Linked DNA regions of Homo sapiens: region 1 is linked to region 2. The links come from fine-mapping of genetic effects on gene expression. A gene starts in region 2. The other region holds a variant in brackets. All regions are shown on one strand. Distances are from middle to middle. Region 1 overlaps DLG3 (discs large MAGUK scaffold protein 3). Region 2 holds the start of DLG3 (discs large MAGUK scaffold protein 3).

The links.
Region 1: its variant is fine-mapped to the expression of DLG3 in thyroid (GTEx, PIP 0.95).

Annotation. Positions count from the first base shown.
Region 1 is chrX:70,471,588-70,488,151 of GRCh38, forward strand. It overlaps DLG3 (discs large MAGUK scaffold protein 3), which reads left to right. Exons shown (of 19, transcript NM_021120.4): 10 at 7,563-7,677. Among named protein-coding and RNA genes, the nearest start is that of DLG3-AS1, 24 kb to the left of the region's middle. RefSeq lists a silencer at 3,863-3,982 and enhancers at 5,508-6,406, 8,465-8,966. The variant T/G (reference allele first, on the strand shown) is at 8,871.
Region 2 is chrX:70,435,118-70,449,249 of GRCh38, forward strand. It overlaps DLG3 (discs large MAGUK scaffold protein 3), which reads left to right and starts at 9,718. Exons shown (of 19, transcript NM_021120.4): 1 at 9,718-10,441; 2 at 13,796-13,846. The coding sequence starts at 10,085. LOC105373244 (a long non-coding RNA gene) reads right to left here and starts at 176. Exons shown (of 3, transcript NR_171576.1): 1 at 1-176. RefSeq lists enhancers at 95-194, 215-294, 282-782, 9,236-10,022.

The sequences.
Region 1 (16,564 bases), 38 kb after region 2:
ACATAACTTTTTGAGGACATTCTTGAGATCATTCTTCATTATGGCTGATATTATCCCACCTTTTCCATGTCTCCAAGGAAAAAACTCAGATTCTTTGCCTTTGATCCTTTCTCACTCTACATCCAATCAGATGTCAAATTTTCTCCCTTCAAGCCCCAATATATTTCTTTTTTGTCTTTCTCCACTTTTGAAGGATCCAACATATTTCTTGATTCCTGTCTCTTCTTTCTGTCTTCATTGCCCTTATACTATGTCAGGCCTTTATAATTATTGTCTGTAGTAGTAGAGCAGCTTCCCGGTCTCTGTTATCTCTCTCTCTCTGTCCTCCAATTCTGTCTTACACTCCCAGAATAATTTTCCCTCAAACCTAGTTCTAATTGTGTTACTTTCCTGTTTAAACACTTAAACGCAGTTCCCATTGCCTAGTAAGAGAAGTGCTATCTCAAGCACTTATAATCTGGCCTGCAACCTACCATTACTTCCCCTTCCCCTGTTTGCACTCTGCCATCTACTCCCATTTTATTCAGTAGTCTTGTTCCAGTCTTTTCCAACTCTTTGACCTTCTTTAAACTATTCCTTCACACTGTTTTGAAGGAAAGAACCCATCATGTTTTATGCTGTTTTAGACATGAAAATTAGGACCAGCTGGCAGAAGGGATGGCGCTAAACCAAAAAATTTTCTCGGCTGGGTGCAGTGGCTCACGCCTATAATCCCAACACTTTGGGAGGCCGAGGTGGGTGGATCACTTGAGGCCAGGAGTTTGAGACTAGCCTGGCCAACATGGTGAAACCCCGTCTCTACTAAAAATACAAAAAAATTAGTTGGATGTGGTGGCGGGCACCTGTAATCCCAGCTACTCCGGATGCTGAGGCACAAGAATTCCTTGAACCTGGGAGGCGGAGCTTGCAGTGAGCCGAGATCACACCACTGCACTCCAGCCTGGGTGACAGAACGAGACTCCTGTCTCAGAAAAGAAAAAGAAAAAAAAAGAATTAGAGAGCTTCCCAGTATTGGACATGTTTGAGCAGAGGCTGAAGGGCTAGCTGGTTTGGATGCTGTAAGAGCAGGGGCTTCTTATACTAGGGGCTGTGGAGAATACACAAACATAGAAAGCATGTGCTTCGTCTGTCAAGAAACTTAAATGTAGATATAAGACACTTCACTTATTCTCTCCACAGTAGCCAAAGTGACACACATATCTGATCATGTCCTTCCGTTCCTTAAAATCATTCAATGGCTTCTTTCCATTGAGAAAGAATTTATCTTAGGATAAAAGCAAATAACCTGTCCGGGCGCAGTGGCTCACACCTGCAATCCCAGCACTTTGGGAGGCCGAGGTGGGCAGATCACCTGAGGTCAAGAGTTCAAGACCAGCTTGGCCAACATGGTGAAACCCTGTCTCTACTAAAAATACAAATATTAGCTGGGAGTGGTGGCAGGCGCCTGTAATCCCAGCTACTCAGGAGGCTGAGGCAGGAGAATCGCTTGAACCTAGGAGGTGGAGGTTGCAGTGAGCTGAGATCATGCCATTGCACTCCAGCCTGGGTGACAAGAGCGAAACTCCGTCTCAAAAAAAAAAAAAAAAAAAAAGCAAATAACCTTACCATAGTTTACAAGGCCTTGTATGATCTGACCCCTGCTTACCTCTTAGTCTGATCTCCTGCCAGTATCCCCTTGCTTTCCTGTGTTCCATACATTTTGTACCCTTACATAATGCTGTTCCTTCTGTCTGGAATGCTTTCTTCACCAGCGCCCTTTCCCTGGACTCAGCTTAAATGTCACTTCCTCAGGGAAACCTTTGTTGAACTCCACCCCCTTCCCACAGGTAGGTTAAGTCACCCTATTAGTCTCTCTCTTAGCATTTTCTTCATCACAGTTATCACAATTGTAATTAAATAATTGTTTGTTTTGTAATTGTAATTTCTAGGGACCATTTTGATTACCATTATATTCTCAGCAGCTAGCACAATGCCTGATACACAGTAGACATTCAGTAATTTTTTTTTATTTTTTTTTATTTTTAGAGACAGCATCTCACTCTGTCACCTAGGCTGGAGTCCAGAGGTGTGATCATAGCTCACTGCAGCCTCAAACTCCTGACCTCAAGTGATCCTTCTACCTCAGCCTCTCGAGTAGCTAGGACTATAGGTGTGCACCACCATGCCCAGTTAATTTTTGAATTTTTTGTAGAATTGGGGTCTCATTATATTGCCCAGGCTGGTCTTGAACTCCTGGTTTCAAGCAATACTTCTACCTCGGCCTCCCAAAGCATTGGGATTACAGGTGTGAGTCACTGTGCCCAAACTTAGAAAATATTTGAATAAATAAATGAATGAATAAAACTTCTTGGAATGAGGTAGGAAAGATGGTGAAGGATGTAAAGGTTGTTCAGTGTCAGGCAGGGGAGAAATGTTTCAGGAGCAGGGAATAACAGGTAGAACTGAACAAGCTGTATTCAAGGGGTCCAGGCAAGCTAGCTCAAAAGAAGACCTGTGTAATTCAGATGTGGGATAGATAGGCTGGCTGTGATGGGAGGATGGTTGTAGCAGTCCTTGAAAGTTTGGCTGACATAGTAAAAGTAAAATTCTTTAGTGCTCATTGAGTCGTTATAGATACTTGGACAGGGGGGCTACAAATTCAAGCTTTAGGAAAGCTTTTCAAATAAGAATCTAATCTGGATTGAGTTTGTAAAGCCTTGGGGCAGAAGACCAGTTAGGGAGGTACAGCAGTGGCCCAGAGAAGAGATAATAAAATAGTCAAGGGAAAATTAAGACACGAAATCAACAGTACGGCAATGACAATTAAAAGTATAAAGAAATAGATTGAGGAAGCAATTAGGAAGAAACATCAGCAAAATTTGAGGAAACACTGGTTGTATGCAGGGAAAAGGGGGTGTCGTTTACAGTAATGGGGGTTTGGCATGAGGAAAAAAAAGGCTTGGTTTTCAAGTTGGGGGCAGATTTAATGTAGTCAAATTAGGTAGATACTTATAGAGGTAGATATAGTGTCATGTAGGTGGAACAGCGTCTTAACTCATGGTTAAACAGGGCCAGGGAAAGAGGGAGAGAAAGACCTGTGGACTAAGGCCTAACCTGGAGAACCAGCAACTCCACTCACCAAGAGGACACCTTTTCTATTATAATGCAGACAACATTTTAGCTCCTCTTTGTCCATTCCAGAATAAAATCTTTACTTTTGCATAACCAAAAGGCTCATTAAACTGTTTTTCTCCAAACAAAAGATCAATTTGTCCTCAAAGGTAAATTCTGCCTCCACTTCAGAAACAGAAAAAGTGCTGGAAGAGTGGAATAGTAGTTTATCCTTAGTCAGAAAGGTTTCAGGATGTTGGGGTTCAATTTGGTAGTGCTAATCAAAAATTTTAATTTGCATATAATTTGACCCTGCAGTTTCACTTCTAGGAATCTATGCAACAGAAATGCTCAAACAAATATACAGTGCAGGCCGGGCATGGTGGCTCATGCCTGTAATCCTAGCACTTTGGGAGGCTGAGGCAGGTGGATTCCTTGAGGTCAGGAGTTCGAGACCAGCCTGGCAACATAGTGAGACCCCCATCTCTACAAAAAATAAAATATAAAAAACAAAAAAAAACCCACAAATACACAATGCAGCATTGATTGTAATATTAAGAATTGTAAACAACTTAAATGTGTATCAATTGAAATATGACTGAATAAATTATGGTCTGTCCATAGTATGGAATCCTATGCAGCTATTAAAATGAAGTCTGTGTACTGACATGGATGATTTTTTGTTTGTTTGTTTGTTTGAGACAGAGTCTTGCTCTGTCACCCAGGCTGGAGTGCAGTGGCGCGATCTCGGCTCACTGCAACCCTCGCCTCCCAGGTTCAAGCGATTCTCCTGCCTCAGCCTCACTAGTAGCTGGGACTACAGGCGTGTGGCCACCACACCTGGCTGATTTTTGTAGAGACGGGGTTTCACCATGTTGGCCACACTGGTCTTGAACTCCTGACCTCAGATGAGTCACCATGCCTGGCCAACATGGATGAGTTTTCATGATGTATCAGAAAATGAAAAAAGCTTGCGTGTGAATTGTGAGTACATGTATATAAGCCATATATGCATGGAAGTAAGTCTGGAAGGACACATACTAAAAATACCAACAGTGGTATCTTCTGGGGAGTGGGATGGAGAAGTGATACAGAATTTTTAAAAAGTGTAAACTCAGCAGCTTTCTTTGCAGGCACATAAGACTGTGGCATCTTTAGGGCTTTCCTTTCCTGAAGGATTTGCAATTGTATTACCAAGTTTTATTTTTGAGAGCTTATCCACTCTCTGGCCCCACCTTTCTTTTCAGAGACACTGCAGGATCCAATTCTGTAAGTTAAGACCAGCAGCTCCAAACTTTATCAGAATCACACTGATGCTTGTTAAAATGCAGATTCCTGGGCCCCTGCTCAGTAGATTCTGATTCTGTGTATCTGGGATGGGGTGCCAAATCCTGATCTTTTAGAGGCACCCCAACTTGTCAGTGACTGGGGCAAAACCCTTCTTCGGTACTGACTTCTGATTGTGCCCCCTCCCACTTGTTTCTCTGTGATTAGCAACTGGGAAAAAGGAAAGAGGGCGATGACTGGATATCTTTGTGGGTCACAAACAGTTGGGTTCATCTGAATGGGAAAAAACAAAGCAGTTTAGTAGACTTGAGATTTTAGTGTTGCTTCTTTGAAGTGGGCCCTCTGGGTTAGAGGCTGGTCAGGTGGGCTTCCTAGGCGGTGACTTTGGCCTAGGAGATGTCCTCCAGCATTGGCTGCGATGGCTGTGTTAGTGACAAATCAGAGGGAAGGAGGGAGCTTGGCGAGTCCTGAAGTCTTAGAATTGAGATGCTTTTTAAGGGAAGCTTTTGTCCTGGGAAAATGATACCTCTAATATTTAAGATGAGGTAGTATCTAAGTCTATTCTAAACAGTTTTTTGTTAGAATGATTTTTCTTTGTTGTAAAAAGTTGTTAATCAGCCGCCTATTGTGGGTTGTTAACATCTCAAAAGGGTGTTTAAAAATAATAAACCCCAATTGCTCCCAACAATTAACCTTGGGAACAAAAGTAAATGTGAATGCTTCTTAACCACCTTTCTAAGCCCTCAGTGAAGCTGGCAGCCATCAGTTAAATAAACCATTAAGTTTATTAGTTTAAGAATAGAAGTGTCAACTTGGACACAGTTTTCTAATTTGCTCCTCATTTACCCAACAATCATTTATTCAAAGGCTGCTCTGCCTAGTAGACTTTAGATAAATCTACAAATAAAAGCCAGAGACTGATGGGCAGCTGGAACTCTAAGGGAATCATCCAAATGGAAAAAAAAGTGAATAAAACACAATTTAATAAACTTGAAATTTTAGCAGCACATGTAAAAACAAAAAGCGTATGCCTTAGAGCAATAGCTTTGTTCTCTTTCTGTAGTCTATTTTAAGTGGGCCCTCTGGCCCAGAATTATCAGCCTTGGATTAGGAGCTTTGAGGAAATGGTGGTTTCGTGGTTGTTTTTTAAAGGATTTTTAAAGAAATGTAGTTACTAAGCAACTGCCATGACCTGCTGCTAAGTTGGAGTTCAGCGGGCAAGTCGATTCCAAAGAAGGGAATATATAAACAAGTTTCAAGAAGGGGAAAACATGGCTTAAAGATAGATTGGGTGTACTTTTTTGTTCACAGTTCAATGCATAGTTCTTTCTCTCTTTGACTTATCTTCCCCTAAGAAAGGGCTGCCTGGTCAGAAATCTTTGTCTCACACGGTTCTGCCCATAGCCGGTGAGCTCAGAGGAGGGCCAGAAAGGAACAAATGAGAAACAATCCCCACCCAGTGTAGAGGGCCAAGCCCTGGGGTGGGGCCAGCACCCAGGCGGTCTCCAGAGGTAGACTGGCCTGCTGTTATGCTCTAGGACAGTCCAGGGCTTAGGTTGGGGCACCTCATTGATATTGATGGCTTGCCGTGTAACCCTCAGAACAGGAACATTGTCCAGCTGTTGTCTCTCTACCCTCCGCCACCCCACCCCCCGCAACGTTTAATGGGTGAGTCAGTGACTTAACTGCTTCCTCCAGGATTTCAGGAACAGGAGTAGGTAATGAGGACAAATCACCATAACACCGGCGTGTGATGAATGAAAGAGCACACGAATTTAACCCGTTGGTTAAACTGATATCACAGTGAACAAAAGAAACTTTGTTGAGAGGAGGTTATTTGCCTCACTCCATTCCTTCCCCTTTAGGCTTTAGCAATTCCCCTTACACCCAGTTGAAGGTCAGTCTGGTTGCTTTGCAGAGGGAAGGGGAGTGTCAGGTGCTGGAACAGGTGTTTTGTTTTCTCCTGTAGAGTCATACGGACTAGGTGGGGATGCTTCTTGCCAGCCCTCTATGGTGCACGAAATTGCTTTTGTGGAATTTTTTCCCCTGGAAGTGTGTTTGTTTTTTAAAGCAGTTTCCCAACCTTCAACCCCTAGTATAAATTTTGACTCGCTTCAAAGTCAGCTTGTCATAGTGAAGTGTGCCTGTTTTCTAGCATTTCCACGGCCTGTGGCCTTAGATATACCCCATTTTATGCGGCAATTATAGGCCTGGAAAATGTGTAATTGTGTGTTTGGTAAGTGTGAATATTGTATTTTAAATGTCCTAGGAGAATGTCACAGCAAAGCAGCCCTATAAAAAGCCTTTTATAATAATTGTACAGCTAGAGTTAATTTTCTTGTATCAGGTTTTCTTAAATTCGGCATAAACCTGTATTACATTTCCAGAGTGATAAGGCTGTTTCCAGCTGTTGTGATGGTCTCAATGGGCTATAAGGTTAGGGATGGACTTATGACCTCACTGACTGGATGATTTTGGAGGTGAGAGGTGTCAGCCGACTTCTCGGTTTGGGAGAATTTATGTTTTAATGTATGCTACTGAAGCCAAAGAGGCTATTGGTTAAAAGGGAAATAACTCAGGAGAGCTTTAATTCTCCTCATATGGTTGTTACGGTTGTGAGGTTTGTTTGTTTTTACCTCTGTACTGGGTTCCAATATCACCCCCCTTCACCCCAGCCAAAAAGTCATCCTGAAAAAATTGTCTTCTTGCCTAACAATGATATAATTGACCTCAGGTCCTTTCCAGCCCCTCCGCTCTGCGTCTCAGGGCCATCTGTTCTCTGCAATCCGCTTTTTGGGAAAGTCTCCTTTCCCATCTGCTCTCCTTGGGCCTTAGTGTCAGCTCTAAAGATTTATAAAGGTTGCACTGGAACCTCTTTCCAGTTGTTATTTTTATAAAGGATCAGTGACATTTTGAGGCAGATAAGAGCTTTGTGCATTTGACCTGCCCAAATGCTACTCCCTTTTCAGGTGCATTCTTTCCTTCTGTTAGTCTGGGGTTGAAGGGAAGTCTGTCTTTCTGTGCTTAGGAGGAGGGACTTTGCTTATCAAAGCAAAGACTGAGTGGGCTGGCTCTGGCTGCTTTTAAGCCAAGGGGCCTTCTGGCTTTTTGGCTGCTGGCATGCAAGCTCAGAGGCGCTCCTTGAGTTCATTCTTTTCCCATCTTTTCCCTTGTTTCCGTGACAGAATACAGTCGCTTTGAATCGAAGATACATGACTTACGAGAACAAATGATGAACAGCAGCATGAGCTCTGGGTCTGGGTCCCTCCGAACAAGTGAAAAGAGGTCCTTGTATGTCAGGTAAGTTGCCCTTCAGAGCACTAGCCCTTGTGCTGGACGAGGAGAGCTCCATGCCAACCCAGCCCTTCTTATTTAACTAGTGGGCTAGGGAGTATGTACTCCCAGTTCTAAAATAACGCTTCTCACTGTATGCTTAGGTTGTGTATTTTATGGTCAGTGTCTCCTCCCTTTTGTGAGCTGGCTTCTTCCTTTTAGCTCATGAATGACTCAGTATGGGAAAATTTCAGTTTGCTCTAATTGTAAAAGACTGTTGGGTGATTGTTGCTAGTCAGCATTCAAATATCAGTCAAATGTTCAAAGTACTTTGCTTGCAATCTGTGCTTTGAGGGGAAACTTGCCACCCCCCCATCCCCTTCCATGTATGCATAATAGACATCAGGATTTGTATCTGAGCATAGCAACTATCGCAGTGTTCTGGTACAGGATCTCTTTTAAGAGACCAAAGAACTGACAGGTTGCTGCATTCTGGATGTTTTATTGTGATTCCATTCCCCCCTCACCACCCGCTGCACTGGTCTGCTGTATCTATGAATCATGGGATGTATAGTGTATGTGCCCTAGGAAGAGGGAGGGGGTGGAGGGAACAGATAGGTAGCATGGAGTATATTGCTGCTGAAAGCTATTCCAAGATATTTCCAAGGTTGAGCTTCTCTGACCCTTGAGGCATAGCTTAATACTTTGTCAGGTCAAAGTACAAATCTCCTGGGGAGTTGGAGTGCCAAGTGAATACTGTGGACTCCTCATAGAATTAGGGATAGCTTCCTTCTTCCTGCTTTGGCTTCTTGGCAAAACTCCAAAATCTGGTGCCAAGTACATTGTATCCTCCAAGGTTAAAGCCCTTAGAGAAAGGTGGTGGGGATTACTCTCCTGAGCCAGAAGTTGCTACAGTATTGTGTTTAATGCTTAGGTGTGGGGTCATATCAAACTCTTGGGCTGAACTTTTTCTAGTGGCCTCTGATACCTGGCTGGGAAGTTGCACTTGCTAGTTGCTTGGCAACGTGACAACTGCTCTGTCCTTGGGGTGTGAGAGGACAATAGTGAAGGGATGTCAACGCTAATTGCAGTTTTTCTCATGGTGCTTGCTTTTCTTTTTCCCCAGTTGGTGGTCCCTGACTCTACCGCAGGGAGTGGAGCTAAAGGAGCCCATCTCTGAGCCTGAAGCCCACTAGAACCCTTCACAATCTTTCCTAATG[T/G]GAACCCTCAACTCCACCCCTTGTGTGTTGAAAGCATGTGCTATGCTTACCTCCCGCTGTGAAGGGAGAATGGTAGGAAGGCGGGACTAGTCACTGGTCATTTTTCCAATTCCCCGGAAAGGAAAGTTTTGTTTTCTGTCACTAAAGCCCTTGCTCCCAGTCTGCAGCCTGGATACTGGGGTGCTGATGGGTGAAATCAGAAATGCACTGTCGACCCCCCAAAATAGGTAATGGTTATATGACTTGGTCAGGATTGTTCCGTTCCGTGCTTCCAGCCCCCGCAGATGTGGCACTCCAGTGTGCGTGGGAAGCTGCTCTTTAGGCAAGACAGTTTCTTTGGAGAGCTTTATTTTTAGATTTCCCCTCTCCGCCTATCCTGTGTTAGAGTTCTCTCTGCCTGGGCAGGGGGAGTGGGACATTGGCTCCCGATATGGAGCACTCTTCCCTGGCTCAGGCAAGGGAATTAAAGGGATACACTTAGCTTAACTCTGGGGCGAGGGTGGAGACCATGACTGTGTCTAGTGAATCAGTTTATATAATCTGCCCGTAACCTTCTCTAGATAAATTATCTGTATCCTCTGAGGAAAGTAGATGTGGTTAGGAAAATAGTAACCATTTGTGATCACTAGATTTAATCAGGGGCACTTAATGTCTTATGGCTAAAGCATTGAGCTGAGGCCCTTTGCTAAGCTAACCCCTTTATCAGAACCTGGCTTACTCTCTTCCCTTTTGTTCCTGATTTTGGCCCTTCACTCTACACTTGGTTCCTTTTCTTCAGCATGTAAACATATTTAAGCTTCTTCCATTCTTAAAAAGAAGAAAATATCCCTTGATACCAATAGTCCCTTAAACTATTGTCTTGTATCCCTTTGCTTACTGCATTTGCCAAATTATTGGCCAGAAAACACTAGCTCCTCAAGATATTACTAAGTATTGTGTGAAAAATCAGTGGTTTAGTAAGTTGGGCAAATGCAGGCTTAAACAGAGGAAAATGGGGCTCTTTCCTGTGATTAATCTCCAGGAAGGACTGTACTAGGCAGTGTTTCCCCAAAAGATAGAGCGTGGGAGCCTTATTTGAGAAACCTATGTCAACATCCAGGTTGGGAAATGTTGGAGTACTTGCTGCTGCTTCAAATCACTTCTCTTTCACTAGCCCGAAAGGAAGCGTGCATCTGCTTTTCAGTGTGGTAGTGTGGCTCTGAACAGCTCTGGAAAGCTCCAGGGGAGCAGAAACCTGACTCTCTGTCAGGGATCAGTGGGTGACTTCTTAGTCTTCAAATTTAGTGACTGGTTCACTGGTTCTCTGACATTGTTCTGACCTCTTCACCACATTTGTTTCCATGAATTACCTGCTTTCTTCTTTAAAGGCTCTCTTTCTACCCTGCTTACCATTCCTTAATACCTTTCATTAGCTCTGCCCCCCTAAATGGCAATGTCATTTATTTTCACAGCTTCAAATCCTGCCGTATAAATGACATTCCTGATCTCTTTACTGAACTACAGACCTGCATATCTACTACTTGCTGGACATGTGCATAAATAAAACTGCCCTCTCAGCGCCTCAAACAAGCGGCATGTACTTTCCTTATCTAAGTTAATTGCCTCACCCTATCATGTGGAAAAGGGATTAGATTTGTTCTGTCACCCAAGGCAGATCTCTGCTCAACATAAGGAAGGAAGAGCTAATGATTAAAACTGTCTGAAAATGGAATGGACTGCTTCCGGATATAGTAAATTCGATCTTTAGTCACTCAAGGTGTTACAGAAGAGGCTGGGCAACCATTTGCCTGGGTATTGCAGAGGGGGTTGAAACTAAAGCAATAATCTGAACATGATCTGCTCAAAAGCTTTCACTAGTTCCTCAGTGTCTTCAAGATAAAGGGGAACAAACATTTAGGGAACACATTGTTCATCAAGACCTTTGTTATTCTCTTTAAATGGCTTTTAATATCCCTTTAATAATCCTACAGAGTAGATATTATGATTCCCATTTTGCAGATGAGAAAACTGAGACTCCAGTTAGATAGCTAAGAAGTTCAAAAACTGGAACTTGAACTTGGTTGCTCTGACTATAAAGTGTGGTTCTTTCAGTGTTTCCCCAACTTCCTCATAGGAATCAGCTGGAATGCTAGTAAAAATACAGATTCCCAGGCTCCTTTTCTAGTGCTTTGGATTCATCAGGTTTGGGAAAATACATGTGTGGTGTTTTTTTTTTTTTTTTTTTTTTTGACGGAGTCTCGCTCTGTCGCCCAGGCTGGAGTGGAGTGCAGTGGCGCGATATAGGCTCACTACAAGCTCCGCCTCCTGGGTTCACGCCATTCTGCCTCAGCCTCCCGAGTAGCTGGGACTACAGGCGCCTGCCACCACACCCGGCTGATTTTTTGTATTTTTAGTAGAGACAGGGTTTCATCGTGTTAGCCAGGATGGTCTTGATCTCCTGACCTCGTGATCCGCCCACCTCAGCCTCCCAAAGTGCTAGGATTACAGGCATGAGTCACCGCGCCCTGCCCAGGAAAATATATGTTTTTAACAAGCAATCAAGGCTGGGTGTGGCAGCTCACACCAGTAATCCCAGCACTTTGGGAGGCCAAGATAGGAGGATTGCTTGAGCCCAGGAGTTCGAGACCAGTCTGCACAACATAGTGAGCCCCACTCTTAAAAAGTAAAAAGTTTTTAATTAGCCAGGTGTGGTGGCATGTGTCTGTAGTCCCAGCTACTCAGGGGGCTAAGGCAGGAGGATCACTTGAGCCCAGGAGGTTGAGACTTCAGTAAGCTATGATCATGACACTGTATTCCGTCCTGGGTAACAGAGCAAGACCTTGTCTCTATAAAAAATTATAAAAAATAAACATCACACTTACTTTAGCTCCTACTATGTAGAAAGCAGTAAAACACAAGGCTAAGAATTTGGGCACAGTTGCAGGGTATATTCAAGGAAGCAGCGGGTATGGTCCCTGCCCTCTGGCAGTTCGCCATCTACCCAGAAAAGATTTAAGCGGCAGGTGGTTAAAGTGAGGGAACCCTTTTTCAGTTTGGGTGTCACCTCTGATTATTTTGCTGTCGCTTTCCCTATGACATGATTATTTTGCTTTCCTTCCCCTCCCCTGAGTATCTATCTCCCTTTGGTGTACATGTGTTTGCAAAGCTATTTTGAAGTAAATAACACTCTCTTAGAGCTGCAACAGAGGCTCTAACAGGTGAAACCCTAGGGAGCTGCAGCTGTACTAACCACAGGGGACGTGGGGTTTGTAGAGCAGGGAGCAGGAGGAAGAAGGAACGAGAGCAGTATTTGGAGAATGAAATTTGATTTTAAAGTCATCAGTGACTTATTTGGAAGGACCTTCCTCACACTTCACTATGCTAGAATTATCTCTTAAGTAGATGACCGGGATAAGCACAGCACCTCAGTCTGCCCAGCCTAGGGCTTTTGCTCTGCTGGAGGATTTGCCTTGCCCACTGGAAGAGTCCACAGAAATAAACCTCTCTTGAACTTCTTGCTTAGGGTTGGGATGGGTAGGTGTTTAACTCAGACCATTCTGATGTGAAGGCAGTACAAAGACACTGAGTAAGTTAGAGTTCCAGGGATGACCTTGTTCTATACTTGTATTTAATTTAATTTAATTTAATTTAATTTATTGAATGAGTAAAGCAAAGACCCTTGTGCTCCAAAGGTTGCCAAGAGGCTCAAGAGTACAGTTGTAGAAATAGCTTTTGAAAGTCCGTTCGGGCTAGCCTGGCTGCATTCTTTGCAGCCATAGGATGGCATTCAGGTAGTTTGGGAGTCCTGGCCTCCTGACTGGCCATCTGCCATCTCAGTCGTCTTAGGAAGGAAATCATGTTAGAGCATCTGTAGTCTTGATTCAAGAAACAATGTCAGACATATTGGCTTGTTCATTAAAGAAGGCTGGAGAATGCTCATTCCTGTCAACAAGCAGACATTAATTGTGCAACTACTCTGCTTTGCCCAGGGTGGTGCTTGGTGGAGCCTGACTTGGTCTTGCTTGTTAATGAGTTTCAATAGTGTATTAAGATGCCAATGGGGAAATATTGGCAGGCTTCACTAGCTGATAGAATTTGGGGGTGGGGATAATATGTATTTTAAAAAGCAACAATAATGTATGTAAGTGTTCAGGGCTACCAGAGGGTGGGGCAGAGCTTCCTGCATCAGTGATTTCTAGAACTACCTATTCCCAAACACTAGTCCTGGGCTTGCACTCATAATCCCTCAGCTCATCCTATCATCTGCAAGTGCTGTGAGCCCCAAACAGTCGCTCATTGCGGGCTAATTGGTCCTTGAATGCCTCTCCAACATCATAATTGCCATAAGGCCTGACACTTTGAGACAGACAAAGGAGGAAGGTGCTCTTAACCTGCTCTCCATGCACCTTTCTTCAAGATACACCAGGGAGGCCCGATCACTCCTTTTGTGTTGACCCACACTGTGCCTGTCTGAGTGCTCGGGTTTGTGCTGTTAGGCTGCTCTTCAGAGGCTGCTGGAAATTTAATTCTTACTAAGGTCAAGGGCTGATGAGTGACTGTTGCTTTATAACTTTCTGTGCATGCTTTATACAGACTGGGCAAGGGATGGGCTGCTTAGTTGTCAAATAATGTGTGCCCTTTATCCAGTACTTTCTGGCCAAAGGAATAAAGTGATATCTTAGGCCCCAGTTACTATGGGAGGGAACACTCTCAGGGTTAGAAACTAGGGAGTAACTGGGAGGGTCTTCTGTGGACACTCCATCCCCTGTAGCTAGGTCTCACCCACCATTCACAAGGATTCAGAATCCCACATGAAGCATAAGACATGGTCTCAGTTTTCAAAGGGCTTCCACTTTGGCGGTGTAATATGAAACATTAAAAAAACCTTGCAAGAATTAAATAGCAATAAGTAGAAAATATAAAGAAAGGTTGCTGCCAAATGTGGTAGCAAATACAGTATGGATTTAGAAGAATGAAATTTGGAGTGGGCAGGATCACAAAGCTGGGAGAGACTTAGGCTGGGCCTCAGAGGAGTTGCTGAGCTGGGTGAGGGGACTGACGGAGCATCTCAGGCTATAGACAGATGGCTCGAGCCACAGGTAGAGAGGTGGGCACAATACTAGGTTATTTTAGCAGAAGCAACCCCTTGCCTTTGAGGCTATAGCGCTAAAATGCTCATTTGCTTTGCATCGAGAAACCTGCTTGACCAGTTTCCTTCTTAGTTACCATTTGCTTTGCGTTCCGGTTCATTAAGACATCACGGTGGCTGTGCCAAGTGCTTATAATTTCTCTGGATCTTTCCAACCCAAATCTCACAATTTAGGATCTCAACTGCAAGGACTTTTGCCTGATAATCTGTTTACTTTGAGCTGGTTATATTCTTGCTTTTCCATCCAGCAGAGAGGACCCAGCTGAAAGGAAGACTGGACAAAGTCCTCTAGAGCACGTACATTATCCCTGTGGGTGGGTGCATGCATCCCTTCGAGGATATTTTTAAAGGTCACCTCTTAAACAACATTGTCTTTCAAGACCTTTGGGAACACTTTCTCCTTAGGGAGACAAGCAGCAGCCTTGAGAGCTAGAGTGCTGAAGATGAGCTCAAGAACTCAAACCTGCACATCCCCTGGAAGTTGCATCTGCTCTTCATGGTGGTATGACAGCTCTGGAAAGCTGTTTTGTAGCCTACCATCACTTTGTTTTTACATGTCACATTTTCCCTGGGCTACACTCTTTCCCTTGCTCTTAAAGAATGTAATATTTTTCTGGCCTGGCGTTGATGTTTGAAAAGTTCCAGGAATACCCAGGCTCTGGCTCTCCCTGGCTTCGTAGAGATATGTGGCCATAACTAAGAAGTAACATATTCAGGGGCAGATCATCTTTCTTGTACATCAAGCACTGTGACTTCAGGCTGGGGATGGTAATATATTTCCATGAATTTTATTCTCTCATGGCACAGTGTTTTCCTCTGATGTGACCAGTCCCTAACTTGGAGGCCTCAATGAAATTATTTTTATCTTAAGTACAGAAGGAATATGAGTTTTTGAGACTTCCTTCTACTCTCCCAACACATTATCTTGTCAGATAAGCTGAAACACACACAGATATGCATGCATGTGCGCATGTGCACACACACAAGCACACACATAATGAGACCAGGGTGGCAGTTGGTTAATTGCGGCCTTTCTTTAGGTATTAAGAGACAAATACCTTTTGCTTTTTTTTTTTTTTTTTTTCATGCTCACTCTAATTTTGAGTCAGGTTGAAATGGTTGGTTGCTATGTCATGTGGGCCTTGCATGTGTAGGACTTCCGTCCTGGGACAGTGGTTCAGCCTGATTTGAAAGGGGAGTATCTGCCTTGACTTTCTCTAGTGCCTGCCCTAAGGATAAAAGGAGGAAGAGGAGAATATATCAGTGTTGTGGAAAAAGGTATTCCTTCTTCCTCTCATCAAACCTACCATGAGCCATTTATTTGTGAGAGGTGCCAGTCCCTGTCACTTCATTAGGATTCCAGGGTGTTCCTAAGACAGACTGTCACTGCTAGATGGCCACAGTTTAGCTGCTTCTTAAAGATCTTAGGAAAGCAGTCAATATTTTTAAAAAAATTATTAAGGTCTAATTTACATACTTTTTTTGGTTACACGAAATATATCTCATGGGAGAAGTTGTTTGACTTTAGTACGCTGGCCTACTCTCTTTTACTGGTTTTATTTCCACATGAAAGTTTAGCCGGATAATGGGATAAGAAAGCTGAGGTAATGAAGTTGGTCCCATAAAGCCTACTAAATGAATGTCAAACTCCTTAGCTGGACAGTGCAGGCTGTCCACAGTCAGGCCCCAACCTGCCATTCTCTGAGGCCCAGCCAGACTTGGATGCACGGCTGATCCCTGAAAATAACCCTGTGCTTCTTGCCTCCAGACCTTTGCTTACACTGTTCTCTTTAGCTGGAAGGACCTCTCCCCAGCTCTACCTTTTGAAATCCTAAATCTTCATTGAGAACCAATTCAAAAAGCAGTATCTCCTTGTAGCTTCCCCAAACTAGATGTGATCTGTACTCCCTGTGAATCCTTCTAGGCCTTGGTTTGTCCTCCTTTTGGGCTTCTTGCTACAACATCCTTAGTATACTACACCCTCTGTCACCTAGTAAGCTCCACAAGACAATAAACTTTGTTCTTGTATCTCCCATGTATCTAACACATACTCCGTATAAAGAAGACTAAGTAGTTTTTCTTTGAGACAGAGTTTTGCTCTTGTCGCCCAGGCTGGAGTGCAATGGCGCGATCTCGGTTTACCGCAACCTCTGCCTCCTGGGTTCAAGCGATTCTCCTGCCTCAGCCTCCCGAGTAGCTGGGATTACAGGCATGCACCACCATACCCAGCTAATTTGTATTTTTTAGTAGAGACAGGGTTTCTCCATGTTGATCAGGCTGGTCTCGAACTCCCAACCTCAGGTGATCCGCCCGCCTCAGCCTCCCAAAGTGCTAAGATTACAGGTGTGAACCACCGCACCCAACCAGACTAAGTATTTAAATAGTGGAAGAATGGTATTTTTCCACATGTAGCTGAGTGAAGAATTAGCTTTTTTTTCTTTTTCTGAGATGGAGTCTCGCTCTGTCACCAGGCTGGAGTGCAGTGGTGTGATCTCGGCTCACTGCACCCTCTGCCTCCTGGGTTCAAGCGATTCTCCTGCCTCAGCCTCCCGAGTAACTGGGACTA
Region 2 (14,132 bases):
CAGCGTCTGGCCCCCCAACCCAGCGCCAGCCTCTGACCCCTTTCTCCTAGCCCCTAGCCTTGGGTACGCAGCCTTGAGCCTGCCACCGGAAATCCTCACTCTCTTCCCAGGAGAACTGGACAGCTAAAGCGGTTTAACCTATAGGCCCTGGGCCCTGGGCTGGAGACTGACACTGACAAAAACTTAAGGGCGGAGGACCCGGGGGAGCTGCTCATTGGGGTTCGGATGTAGTTGCTCTTCGTTATTTTTAGCTGCTGACTCACAGCTCCTGGCATCCGGGTTTGGGGCTAGCAGGCTGGGCTAGGGGGCTATTAATAGAGCAGGAGCACAGCCCCGACCCAGTTCAGTTTGGAAACACAGAGAGCAAGAAGCGTCCCCTGCCACTATGCCCTGTGGAGATGTGGACTGAGCAGTGGCTGGGCCAGATGCTGTCTGGATGCTAGTTACCTCACCCTGGTATCTCTACCTTGGAACTCTTGAGGGAAACCCCACGAGGAGACTCCTGGGCACAGCTCTCCCCTAAGCTCGCCATGGCTTGGGGCTCTGCCACAATCAAGCTTCTGTTGTACTAGCCGAGAAGGCAGAGATGCGTCCCAAGTGGAAAGATTGTTTTGGTCATGGCCTTGGCCTGCCTGGACCCACTCCTGGGCCAGAATGCTAGGTTACTAGAAGGAAAAGCTATGGATTTCTGGTCCCCCACAGCCTTCATAAGGATGGAGTGCTTCAGCATGGTCCTAACACAGGGGGCACAGAGCTGGGGATCCCCAAACCAGACACAGAGCTCAGAAGCTGCCAGATTCTGTGCTTATCACACCCCCAACCCCGCCATTCTTTTTATTTCTTTCCATTTTGTTGAGCTCTGTCCCAACTCACAGGGATTTACAGACCTCATGATCTCTCCCTTGTCTGGAGAGAAACCGTATTCATGAAAGCCACTGCTTGTCCCCAATGAGGTATGAATGATCCTTTATATATTGTCATTCCCATTGACCTTTTTATTTTAATGGGCTAACGTAAGAGTTTCCTAATGTATACATTGGGAATCGTGAGGAAATCTTGATGGACTGATCAAAATTATTCCCACGCAAGCTCAATTTTCTAGAATTCCCATTGACTAAGGGTGCACACCCACAACAATGCTCCTCCCCTCCTTGCAAATCAGAAACTTCCACCTTCATCGACCCGAGTCTCCAGCCCCCAGATGAAACCACATTTGGGGCAAGAGTGATCGTTTCACCACGCACAATATGGAGGTCACTCAGTGAAGCTCTATTTTCAAGAATGAGCCCAGCTTATCAGACAGACAGCAGCAGACCGCGCGGTCCCAACCCCGTCTACTTGCTGAAGGAGCCGGAGTGGCGGTGGAAGGGGAGATAAATGGTCTCTCTGCTTGAAAATCCGTTCCTGAAGTCCTCCATCGCCTGGTTGCCTAGCAACCAGAGCTGCTTGCAGCGGTGTGGGGCGCTTTTGGTCCGTAGGGGGCGACTGTCTCCCTGGGGTCTCAGGCTGGAGCCCTAGCAGTTGGGAGGGAGGTTCCCTAGTTAAGTGTCACAGTGTCTCAGTGTGGCTGACCTCCTCCCAGCCTTGTCAACCCAGTCCGGTCTGAGCGGCAGGGAGCCTATGGAATGAGGAGAAGCCCACTATGAGTCTGAAGGGATTTTGCTCACAATCATTAAAAATGAAGAGAGAGAGGGTGGGAGGAAGGGAGGAAGGAACCTGTTAAAGGGGATAGGGCAAAAAAGGGGGTAAGGAAGGGGCCTGAGGAGGGTAGTTTGACCCTCTCCATTCAGTCGAGGCTTATCAATGCTTATTTTTCAATCAGAGCAGTTCAGAGGTTGAAAGGAGTCTAGCAATCTCTATTGACAAACTGTTAAGCATATAAAAGACTAGGCTCCTGGGTTACCAGCCTAGCCTAGATTTGGTCATTAAGGAAGATATTCATTCATTCATATGACCATAATTAACACTAACCCACTATGTACCACGTGGTGTGCTAAGTGTCCTACATTTAACCCTCACAAGAACACTGTGATTATTTCCTTTTCACAGATTACAATACCAAGTCTCAGAGAGGTTAAGTAATGTCCAGACTCACAAAAATAGTGACTGGATTGGGTCTGATTGAGCAATCACTGTGTGCCAAGTCTAGGAGTACAGAAAACAATACATTTCTTTTTTCTGTCTAATGAACGCCCAGTCACCCTTTGGGACAAAACTGAAAATATCATCTGCTTTGTGAAACTTTTCTTAAGTCCCCTTCCCCCCAACAAGCAGAACTGATAACTTGCTTTTCTGTACACCCTCCTGAAATACCACTTTTCACAGGTATGGTAATGATCTGCTTCCATATTTCCATTTCTTTCACTTTGAGCACCTTGGTGGCAGGGCCTGTGTTCATCTCCAATTGGACATCTAACAAACATCCCAAACTCAACATGTTCGTTTCTGAACAGCTGACCTTTTCCCCCAAAAATGACCCCTCCTAAAACTGTCCTCATCTCAGTTGATGGCAATTTCACATTTCCAGTTGTCCTGGCAAAAAATCCTTGGAACCACACCTTGTATCCAATCTGTCAGCAAATCCTGTCAGCTCTCCCTTCCAAATACACCCAGAATCCAACCACTTATCATCTCTGGTGCTACCACACTGGTCCAAGGCACAACCACCTCTCAGCTGGATCACTTCAGCAGCTGCCTGACTAGTCTCACTGCTTCCACCCTCGCCCCTGTGGCCTATTCTCTGCAAAGAAGCTATACCAATCCTGCTAAACCCAAGTCACGTCATGCCAGTTCTCTGCACGAAACCCTCCAATGGCACTCCATCTCTCTGAGAGGAAAGCCAAAATCTTTTCAGTGGTCTACAAGGTCCTACACAATCTAGTCCCTTATTCAATCTCTGATCTCGTCTCCTGGCGTTCTCCCCTCCCTTACTCTGTTAAAGCCACTTGATTCTCCTTGCTGTTCCTTGAGCAAGTCGGATGCACTCCTTACCAGGACCTTTGCACTCCTTACCAGGACCTTTGCACTGGCTTCCCCCTGCATGGCTCACTTCCTCACCTCCCTCAATTCTTTGCTGAAATGCCACGTTCTCAGTGAAGCCTACCCTGACCAACCTATTTAAGATTCCCTCTATTTTAATTTCCAGTTTACAGTAAATACAGGGTACAATAGTCCTCCTTTATCCATGGGGAATATGTTCCAAGACCCCCAGTGGATGCCTGAAACAGCAGATAGTACCAAACCCTATATATACTATATTATTCTGAAGTGATAACCAAGATGGCTACTAAGTGACTTATAGGTGGGTAGTGTATGCAGTGTGGATACACTGGACAAAGGGATGATTCACATCCTGGGCGGGATGGAGCAGGACAGCACAAGATTTCATTACATAACGGCATACTATTTAAAACTTATAAATTGTTTATTTCCGGAACTTTCCATTTAATATTTTCAGACTGCAGTTGACCATGGGTAACTGAAACTATGGCAAGTTAAAACCATGAATAAGAGGGAGAGTACTGTATAAAGGAACGAGATAAATGACACCATGAGGAAAAAGACAAATCCAAAACAATTGACTGGCACTCTTCAAAAACTCGATGTAGTTAATTTTTTAAAAAAGATGGAAGACTTCCAGTTATGGACCCAGTTAGAGTAGACACACTTCTCCCTATTCCTCACACTAAGTACAGCTAAAACTCTGGACATTATATATAAGACAAACATAAGAAGACTATGAAAGAAGAGGAAGGGGGCAGACTAACTAGGAACCCCAGTGACCTGAACTCGAGGTGATGAGTTCCCTGGGTTTTCTCGTTGTATCAAATATTCCAGATCAGGTACTGGAGAAGCCAGCAGCCTGGAAATGCCAATGGGCACAGACAAAAAAAATGCAAACACCAGTAACTGGCCTATTCTCTCTAGCCATAAGACCAGGAAATGGAATTTAGCCAGACAGAAAACTCTTAGACAATAACCACCACTGCAACCACACACCACAGAAAAAAAAAAAAAAAAAAAAAACTGCAGCTGCACCCAAGCCAGCAAAGGCCAAGTAGATAACCCAGATTTTCACTCTGGCCAGGCTCCCCCGTACTCTCTGGGGTAGTGTCAGAGAAGGCTGAGTAGAGAGCCTAAACTTCCATCCCTGAGGGGTAACAAGAACCCCTTCCTGTTGGGTGGTGTCAGTGTCAGAGAAGCCTGGTGGTGAGTCAGGACTTTTACCACAACATATCATTTGATGAGGCCATTAGCCTCCCTCTCCTCCCCTCCCAAAATCTCTCCACCTCCTGACTGTGGTGTTAGTGGAAGCCCACCTGGGGAACAGTAAAAAGGCACTTCTGCCCCTTCCAGCTAGAGAGGCATCAGTAGAGGCATAGTAGGGAGCTGGAATTTTTACCCCTGCACAGTAGAAAGGAGAAGCCTCCACCACACATACCAACCAAGACCAAGGAGGGAAATTGAACTTGAACCTCTACCCGGCAGTAACCAGGCAGTGGCCCTTTCCTCTGATGAAAATCGTGTCAGAAGAAGCCTACCAGAAACAAAAGATGTAAATGAAATCCAGAGTCTCATACTGTAATATCCAAAAATTCCCAGGATGCAATAAAAATCACTCTATATCTAAGCCCAGCACCTATAGTCCCAGTTATTCAGGAGGCTGAGTTGGGAGAATCACTTGAGCCCAGGAGTTCAAGGTCAGCTTGGGCAACATAGTGAGACCCTGTGTCCTTTTTTTTTTTTTTTTTTGAGACGGAGTCTTGCTCTGTCGCCCAGGCTGGAGTCAGTGGCGCAATATTGGCTCACCGCAACCTCCGCCTCCCGGGTTCAAGCGATTCTCCTGCCTCAGCCTGCTGAGTAGCTGGGACTACAGGCACCCGCCACCACGCCCAGGCAATTTTTGTATTTTTAGTAGAGACAGGTTTCACCATATTGACTAGGCTAGTCTCGAACTCCTGACCTTGTGATCCACCCGCCTCGGCCTCCCAAAGTGCTGGGATTACAGGTGTGAGCCACTGCGCCCAGCCGACCCTGTGTCTTAAAAAAAAAAAAAATTCACTCATTATACCAAGAACCAGGAGACCCTCAATTTGAATGAGAAAGAGAAAGATTTCAACTACCTGACAAAGATTCTAAAGTGGCCAACATTAAAAAAAATGCTTCTATGAGCAATCTATGAGCAATTACAAACAAGGTTAAAACGAATGTAAAAAATAGTAAGTCTTGGCAAAGAAATAAGAGATATAATGAAGAATCAAATAAAATTTTAGAACAAACTATAATAACCAAACTAAAAAACTCAGTAGATGAGCTCAAAAGGAGGATGGAGAGGACAGAGGAAAGAATCAGTGAACATAAAGATAGAACATTAGAAATTACCCAATCTGAACAACAATGAGAAAATAATAGACAAAAAATAAATGAACAGAGCTGGGCACAGTGGCTCACGCCTGTAATCCCAGCACTTTGGGAGGCTGAGGTGGGCAGATCACTTGAGCCCAGGAGTTCAAGACCAGCTTGGGCAACATGGCGAAACCCTGTCTCTATTAAAAATACAAAAATTAGCTGGATGTGGTGATGCACACCTGTAGTCCCAGCTACTCAGGGGGCTGAGGTGGGAGGATCACCTGAGCTTGGGAGATCGGGGCTGCAGTAAGCTGTGATTGTGCCACTACATTCTAGCTTGGGTGACAAAATGAAACAGAGTCTCAAAGAAAAAAAAATGAACAGAGCCTCAGGGATGCTTGGGACTATAACGAAGGACTTAACATTCACATAATTGGAGATGTGGAAGAAGAAGAGAAAGAGCATGGGGCTAAAAAAAATTACTCAAGAAATAATGGCTGAAAATTTGGCAAAAGACATAAATGAACAGGTTCAAGAGGTTGAACAAACCCCAAATAGGATAAACTCAAATTCACCCCAAGGCACATCATAATCAAACTTCTGAAAACTGAAGATGGGAAACTTGAAAGCAGCAAGAGAGAAACAACACCTTACCTACATAGGAAAAGGAATTCAAATGTGGCCAGGTACAGTGGCTAACACCTGTAATTCCAATACTTTGGGAGGCCAAGGTGGGAGGATAACCCAAGGCCAGGAGTTTGAGACCAGCCTGGGCAACATAATGAGACCTCGTCTCTACTAAAAATAAAAAAATTAACCAGGAGTGGTGTGCGCCTATAGTCCCACCTACTGAGGAGCCTGCTTGGGAGACTGAGGCAGGAGGATCACTTTGAGGCCAGGAGTTTCAAGGCTGCAGTGAACTATGGTCACACCACTGCACTCCAGCATGCTATATCTGGTGAAAATATCCTTCAGGAATGAGGGGGAAATCAAGACATTCTCAGACAAAGGAAAGCTAAGATAATTTGTTGCCAGCAGACAAAGAATGGCTAAAGGAAGTTATCAAAACTTACAGATGAATAATGGAACCATTTACATGTAATGAAACTTACATGTAAATGGTTCAGAAAAAGGGATAGATAGATAGATAGATAGATAGATAGATAGATAGAGCATTAACTGGGCATGGTGGCACACACCTGTGGTCCCAGCCACTTGTGAGGCTGAGGTGGGAGGATTGCTTGAGCCCGGGAGTTTGAGGTTGCAGTGAGCCATGATCACGCCACTGCACTCTAACCTGAGTGAGTGAGCAAGACCTACTCTTTAAAAAATATAGATAGATGGATAGATACATAGATACATAGACAGAGCAAATATAACAATCAAAACAAGTCAAATTGTCGACTTGATAAGGAAGGCATACAGTGGTGTCCATTGTACTACTCTTCCAATATTTTTGTATGTTTGTAAATTTTCATTTTTAAAACTGTTGGAGAGGATATGTGGAGGATAGATATATGATAAAGCAAGCATAGCAAAATGTTAATGAGAATCCTAGGCAGTGGGTAATTGGATGTTCACTGTAAAATTCTTTGAATTTTTCTGTATGTTTGAAAACTTTCATATTAAACTGTGGGGGCAAAAAACTTGAAAAAAAAATCACAACTTGGTATCCTCCCCTACCATTCCCAATCCATCTTACTGTGCTCTACTTTTTATTTTTTTCCATGGCACTTATCACCATATACACAGCAGGTGTATATGCTGAATAATGTTGTTTTCTTCAACATCATTTTGTTTTAACATTGATGAGGGGGAAAAAAAAACAACTAAAACGATTCCTGGCCAGAGCCACTGTCTGTGTGGAGTTTGCACACTCTCCCCATGTATGTGTGGGTTTTCTCGGGTATTCCAGGGTACTGCGCTTCCTCCCACATCCCAGTGCACGTTAGGTGAATTGGCGTGTCTAAATTGTCCCAGTGTGAGTGAGTGTGGGTGTGTATGTGAGCGCACCCTGTGATGGAATGGCATCCTGTCCAGGATTGGTTCCTGCCCTGTACCCTGAGCTGCTGTGATAGGCTGTGGCCACCCTTGACCCTGAACTGAAATAAGCAGATTGAAAAATGAATGAATGGATGGATGGATGGATGGATGGATGGATACAAAGTACTGTAAAATAAAAATTTGTCAAGTAGTTGATAATCATACAAATGCACAATAAACTATGAGGTAAGAAAGTGCTCATCGAGCTCACCATATTCGTGATTGTTTGCTTTTGAACTGCATGGTGGTAGGGAGGTGCTCCTTACAATTTTCGCTTTGCATACATTTATTCCTTGATTCAACCCACCACCACTTCCACTGCTGTCACTCACTGGTTCACCAAAGGTTAGGTAATTATTTACTTGTTTTCATTAATCTTTCTATATGTATGCATAGCTCATATTTATTTCAATGTTCAATATCAGAAGTGTTTTGGGTCTTTATTTGGAAGCTGGGTGATGTTTTGTGACCAGAAATATGCTGTAGGAACTTAGCTCTTGTTTATATTAATTAGCCTGTGGTAAAATTGGTTTTGTTATACGTTGTTTCACTTAGTCCCAGTTGCCAAGGACCTACCAATGATGTTAAATGAGGACCTACTGTACTACATAATTCACTTATTTATTGTGTTTATTTTTGTCTGTGTCCTCTCACTAGGAGGTAAGCTCCCCAAGGGCAGGGATTTGTTCTGTTTGTTCTGTTTTATTTTGTTTCCTGCTATATCCCCAAATCCTACAACAGTGTCTGGCACACAGCAAGTGTTCCACGCATATTTGTTGAATTAAGAATGAATCTCTGAGGGCCGGGCACAGTGGATCACACCTGCAATCCCAGCACTTTGGGAGGCCAAGGTGGGTGGATCACTTGACGTCGGGAGTTCGAGACCAGCCTGGCCAACGTGATGAAACCCCATCTCTACTAAGAAAATACAAAAATTAGCCGGGCGTGGTGGCAGGAGCCTGTAGTCCTAGCTACTAGGGAGACTGAGAGGCAGGAGAATCGTTTGAACCTGGGAAGCTGAGGTTGCAGTGAGCTGAGATCACGCCACTGCACTCCAGCCTGGGTGACAGAATGAGAATCCATCTCAAAAAAAAAAAAAAAAAAAAAAAAGAACCTCTGTATCCCTAATACCTAGGTCAAGGTCTTGCACAGAGCAGGTGCTCAATGAATATTTGCTGAATTGAACTGAGATGTAAATTCTGCAGGAGAACTTAGAATAGACCTGTCGTACTAGAGTGGTTCACAGCGTGGACTCTGGAGTCAAATAATCAGGATTTGCATCCTGATTCTGTCACTTCCAGCTGTGTTACCTAGCTGTGTTAACATCTTTGAGCCTCAATTTCTCATTGGTAAAATGAAGATAATAATAGCATCAGCTTGGTAGGATTTGGGTTTGCGTGTTATGCACTTAGGACTTTGTAAAGACCCAATAATTGGTAGCTAAAAACAAAACAAGAACTGCAAAAAAGATAGTCTTTCTTGTATGTCATCCTTCCTCCATTCCCCCGACAAGCTGAGCCAGGAGAGGGTAAGGAGATGTCCTTGGACAAGTATTCCTAAGCTCTATTCCAGACCCATAGAAGGGTTTCTCTCTCTTCAAATCCCTTCTTACCTTTTCACCTGTCCTGGACTTTCATCTTGATATCCTGAAGTTCCTTCCCCCATCATAACCATGCAGGGGTGGAGTGGAGGAGATAGGGGTTTGTGGGCCAGGGACAAGGACTTAGAGCTTTCTGTTAATCCCTGTTCTAGGGTTGAGTTCTTTACTGGTGATGGTAGAAGGTCAAGTGTGAGGTCACAGTAATTTCAGGGCCTAGAGACTGAGAGAACAATAGTCTTGTGTAGGAGGCATTGACAGGACAGCGGGCCTCATATGCTGCCTTCTTCTTTGGTCCCCTGTAAGAGAAAGCACCTCCCTCACCCTGCTCCAACGTCCTTTCTGTCCATCCTGCTACCTCGTCTTTACTTCTGGTGGCCCCAGCTCAGAGCAAGCCTGGGGACCCATTGAACATCTCCCTGCAACTCCCTCTTGGAAGTGGGGTGGGGTGGAGTGGGCAGAGGACAGGCTAAAACTGGCGATATAAGGGCACAAGATCGGGTGCCTGAGCTTTCTGGTGGCCCACGTCCTCTGCCCCCGCCCTTAGAGCCAACAGTTCCCTAGAGATTGGGGGAGCTGGGGCTGAGCCTGGGGGCGCCGCTGCCTCTGTTCCTTTAAGTAGCCGCTGTTTAGCATTCCTGCCGCCGCCGCTGCCGCTGCCGCTGCCTGCCTCTGCGCGCTGATTGGCTGGAATCAACTGAGAAGGGAGCCAGGGAGAGATGCTCTTGACTCCACTCAGATCCATCCTGGGGACCAGAGCAGAAGCGGTCCTCACAGCACCCATTCTCTGCTTGAGCTCCCGCTTCTTCTTTGCCGCTGGGCCTCGGCCCAGAAGCCACGACGGGCGACACGGAGCCGCCAGTGCTGGAGGGGGAGCCGTGGGTGCGGGGCAGCGTGGGGGCCGAGGCCCCGGGACGCCCGCCCGGCCCCAGGCCCCGCTCAGCCCGGGCGCCCCCACGGGTGCCCCCCCCTTCTTGGTCCGAGCAGTGTGAGTGTGCCAGGGAGCCCGGCGGCGGCGGCGGCGGTGGTGGCGGCGGTGGCGGCGGCGTGGAATCCGGCGTGGGCTGGGGGGTCCGAGCCGCGGGGGGCAGTGCCATGCACAAGCACCAGCACTGCTGTAAGTGCCCTGAGTGCTATGAGGTGACCCGCCTGGCCGCCCTGCGGCGCCTCGAGCCTCCGGGCTACGGCGACTGGCAAGTCCCCGACCCTTACGGGCCAGGTGGGGGCAACGGCGCCAGCGCGGGTTATGGGGGCTACAGCTCGCAGACCTTGCCCTCGCAGGCGGGGGCCACCCCCACCCCTCGCACCAAGGCCAAGCTCATCCCCACCGGCCGGGATGTGGGGCCGGTGCCTCCTAAGCCAGTCCCGGGCAAGAGCACCCCCAAACTCAACGGCAGCGGCCCCAGCTGGTGGCCAGAGTGCACCTGTACCAACCGGGACTGGTATGAGCAGGTATGGACCAGCGGAGGGGGGAGCGGTGGGGCAACCCAGGAGGGCTGGAGAGTGGGGGCCTAGAGGCCTGGGATGCAGTAGGGGTCGCTGGGGCTCCAAGCCTGTGGACCCCGAGCCCTAGCATTGCAGCTGGGCAAAGAGAGGCGGTGGGAAATGTGTGGTTCCCTGTGTGTGTCTGTTTGGGGGTCTCCATTAGAAGACTGGGAGGAGCCGTGTGTCAGGGGGTAAGGGCATGGCGGAGGGGCACATTTTCCTGTGTGGGGGAATTGGGTTTGTCTCAGTGTGGGGGTTTGGCAATGTCTCTGTGTCTGGCAGGGGGCGGGAGGTTCTGCGGGGGCTGTGTGTGGTGTGTGTCTCCACCGGAGGGGAGGGGAGGGGGCATGGTGCTCTGCGTAGGGGGGACATATGTGTGTGTATGTATGTTGGGGTGTGTGGAGGAAGGCAATGGAGCTGCCGTGAATCCGTGTGGAGGAGCCCATGTGCCCGGCTCGCTGAGCTTCATCCCTTGATGCCATGAGTCCCTCTCCGTCCCAGTCCCTTTGTGTGTGAATGTGCACATGGATGTGTGGAGATGTCACTCTGAATGTGGAGAGGTCTCTGTAGAGGAGGCTGCAGGGATGGCTGTGTTTGTGTGTGTGGCTACATGTATATGTGTGTGAGCATGTGGCTGCAAGAGTGTGCACGCGTGTGCCTGGTGTGTGTGTGTGAGTGTGTGTTTGTATGTGTTGTCTCTGGTGAGAGGCGCTTGACAGGCAAGGGAGGGGAGAGGAAGGAGGCGAGAGACATGTCCCAAGCAAGGCTGAGAGGCTGCTGAGAAGGACGGACTCTTTTGTCCAAGCAGCTCTGTAGTGTGTGTGCCGGGGTGGGGTGGCGGGGGGCGGGGGGAGATTTGAAGGAACTGAAGCAAGCCTCCTCGCTCTAGAGCAGGCATGGTGCCTGGAGCCGGCAAGGGGCAGCTGCCCTGGTGCAGAGACTGGCCCCAGTGGGGCATGTCCCCCTTGGGTACCTCCAGATGTGAGAGGGCTTAGCCCCCCAGCCCTGACTTGGCACAGCTTGGGAGCCCCTGGGTGCTGGGCACAACTCCGGCTTCCACTCCCAGCCTAAACTGCCAGCTTAGAAAATGGAAGGAGCATCTGTGGGAGAAGCAGCAAAATGGAGGCTGGGCTGGCAGAGCCAGGTCCCTGGCACGCAAGGCGGAGGGCCTGTCTGGTTATCCGGCTCTGCAGCTCCTAGGGTGGGGAGAGAGGAAGAGGAGGCTTTGCTGTCGAGGGCAGGTGATGACTTCCCCAAGCTGGTGACCGTTCTGGCTGCCTCTGTCCTCTGGGGATAGGATGTGCTCTCACTCAGAGGCAAAGGTGGGGACTTCCTGGGGAGAAGAGCCCTCAGTTCTGGCCTTCTGTCTGTCCACACTTACTGCTTTCCCACATCCCTTGCCTTGGCCTCTTGCCCTTTCCAGCGAGTCCCTCTCTCTCCTTTGCCCCCTCTCTGTCCTGGAGGCCTTTCTCTCGCAAACACCCTCTTATGCTTGTCCTGCCCGGCTGGGAGACAGGTGGCAATCCCAGGCTGGGCCAGTTGGCCAAGGTTTCTTTGCCAGGGCTGATCCCTGGATGGCTCCTGGCCCTGAGAACAAGGTCCTTGAGTAGGGGTGGGGGCTAGAGCGTGGACCACTGGGAACGGGAAGCCTCTGGGTACCACTGGGGCTGGGCTTGAGGCATGGCTTGTCACATGTGGGCACACATGGTACACCAAATGCACACAAGAGCCACATGGGTGTCCCTTTGCTTATGTGTCTGTTGCATGGTACTTAAGGCAGCTGTGTTGGTTTCGGGTCTCTAAGGAGCCTTCAGTTCTTCTTCCTGGGGTCACAGACCAGGGTAAGGCTGTAGCTGGAGTCCTCCCACCAACTCCCACAGCTGCAGAGCCAGCCCAGAAATGGTGGAGGCATGATGAGCTAGTCCTCTCTCCCTCTCCTCCTCTCTGCTTCTTGAAGCCAAAGCTGTGTGGGGTGGAGGTGGGACGGGGGAAGCACAGCAGGACATGTGGAGGAGCCCCCACCCTGGTTTCCAGCTCCCCACTTCTGAGGAGGAGGCTAGAGGTCAGGGAAGGGACAACATAGCCAGAGAAAGGTGGGGGAGGGGTGCCAGGGTACCTGGGGAGACAGGCAAGAGGGCTTCTCCATTCTTGGAGGTGAAAGTGGGAGCCAGCAGGCAGGTGCTGCTTGTATGTCCAGAATCACATTTTCACTTGACAAATAGATACACACATGTCCTGTCTGGGAGGCCATCTCTGTGGGTTGGCCAAATCACCCCTGTGTTTCTGACCCCTTCCCTTGCCTCTTCTTGCATGGCTACTACATATTGAAAACCATGGACTCTGCTGCCAATCAGCCTGTGGGTCACCAACTTCTCCCTCATGGGGAATCTTGTCTACCCTGCTCCAGTCCCACCCGTGGCTTTGTCTCTGACTCCTGACCAGATCCCACCCTCGCCCTTTCTGCTGGGAAAAACAAAGGGCTCAGAATCAAAAATCCTTTGGTAGAAAATGGATTAGGACTTTGACTCCTTCTGCCTATTTGAGGAATTGGGTTCCTGGAGTCCAAGAAAGAGGTATAGAGTGAAGACTCACGAGGTGCTCCAAAGTGGGGCAACTGTCCTTTTTCCCATGAGCTCTGCTGGGGTACGGGGATGAGTGACCAAAACATCAGTGGCCTTAAGAGCTTACTGTAATCAAAAGAACACCTGGATATCCTATTGCTCTGTCACTAATTCCCAGTGTGCCCTTAGGCACATCCCATGTCTTCTCTGGGCCTCCGTGTCACCTACTGTCACATAAAGGGGATAGGACAAGATGATGTCTGCTGTCCTTCCAGTTCGGACACAGTGGGAGTCTATGATCCCCCAGTCAGGGAGAACTGTGGTTCAGAAGGGGAAGGGTTATCTGTCTAGGCCACTGGGTATCCCCTATGGACACTGGGTGTGGCATGGTTTGCCTGCCATGCTCCATCTCTGCCATCCCCCTTAGGCCAGGCCTGCACCCCTCCTAGTGAACCCTGAGACACTGAAGCACAGCCTCTCGGTGAGTGCACCACTGGCTGGCTCAGTCTCAGACAATTGATCTGGGCTAAATGAGCAGCTTGGTTTGGGCTGATATGGTTGGAAGCAAAGCAGGGATTGGTGGGGTGAGTGAGGAGCGGCCTCTTCCAGGTCAGCCTGTCCTCATCTGTGGCCAAGAGGTGACCTGGGGTGCACTTGGGCTCTTCTACTCTGTGGGAGTAGGGGAGGAGGCAGGTTGACTAAGGGGCAGATGGCTGGAAGGGCAGGGGGCACTAAGGGAACTGCCTGTGTCTCCCCCTAGGTGAATGGCAGTGATGGCATGTTCAAATATGAGGAAATCGTACTTGAGAGGGTGAGTCTGCCAGTGGGGAAAAGCGGAAAGGGAAGGAGAGGGTTGGAGCCAGGATAAGGGAGACCCCTGAATCATGGTTTCAAGACCCATGGGGGGACCTGCATTTAGAGGATGGTGAAACAGCGGCCCTCAGAGGCTGCTTCACTGCATCAATCAATCAACCCACTAACAAATATTAATTGACCTTGCTCACTGAGGCCTGGGGAATTGGGGAGGGGATGGGTTTCCCAAAATGATCAGCAGAGGCTGGGTGTCTGACAAATGTGCCCAGCCTGCCATGGCCCCT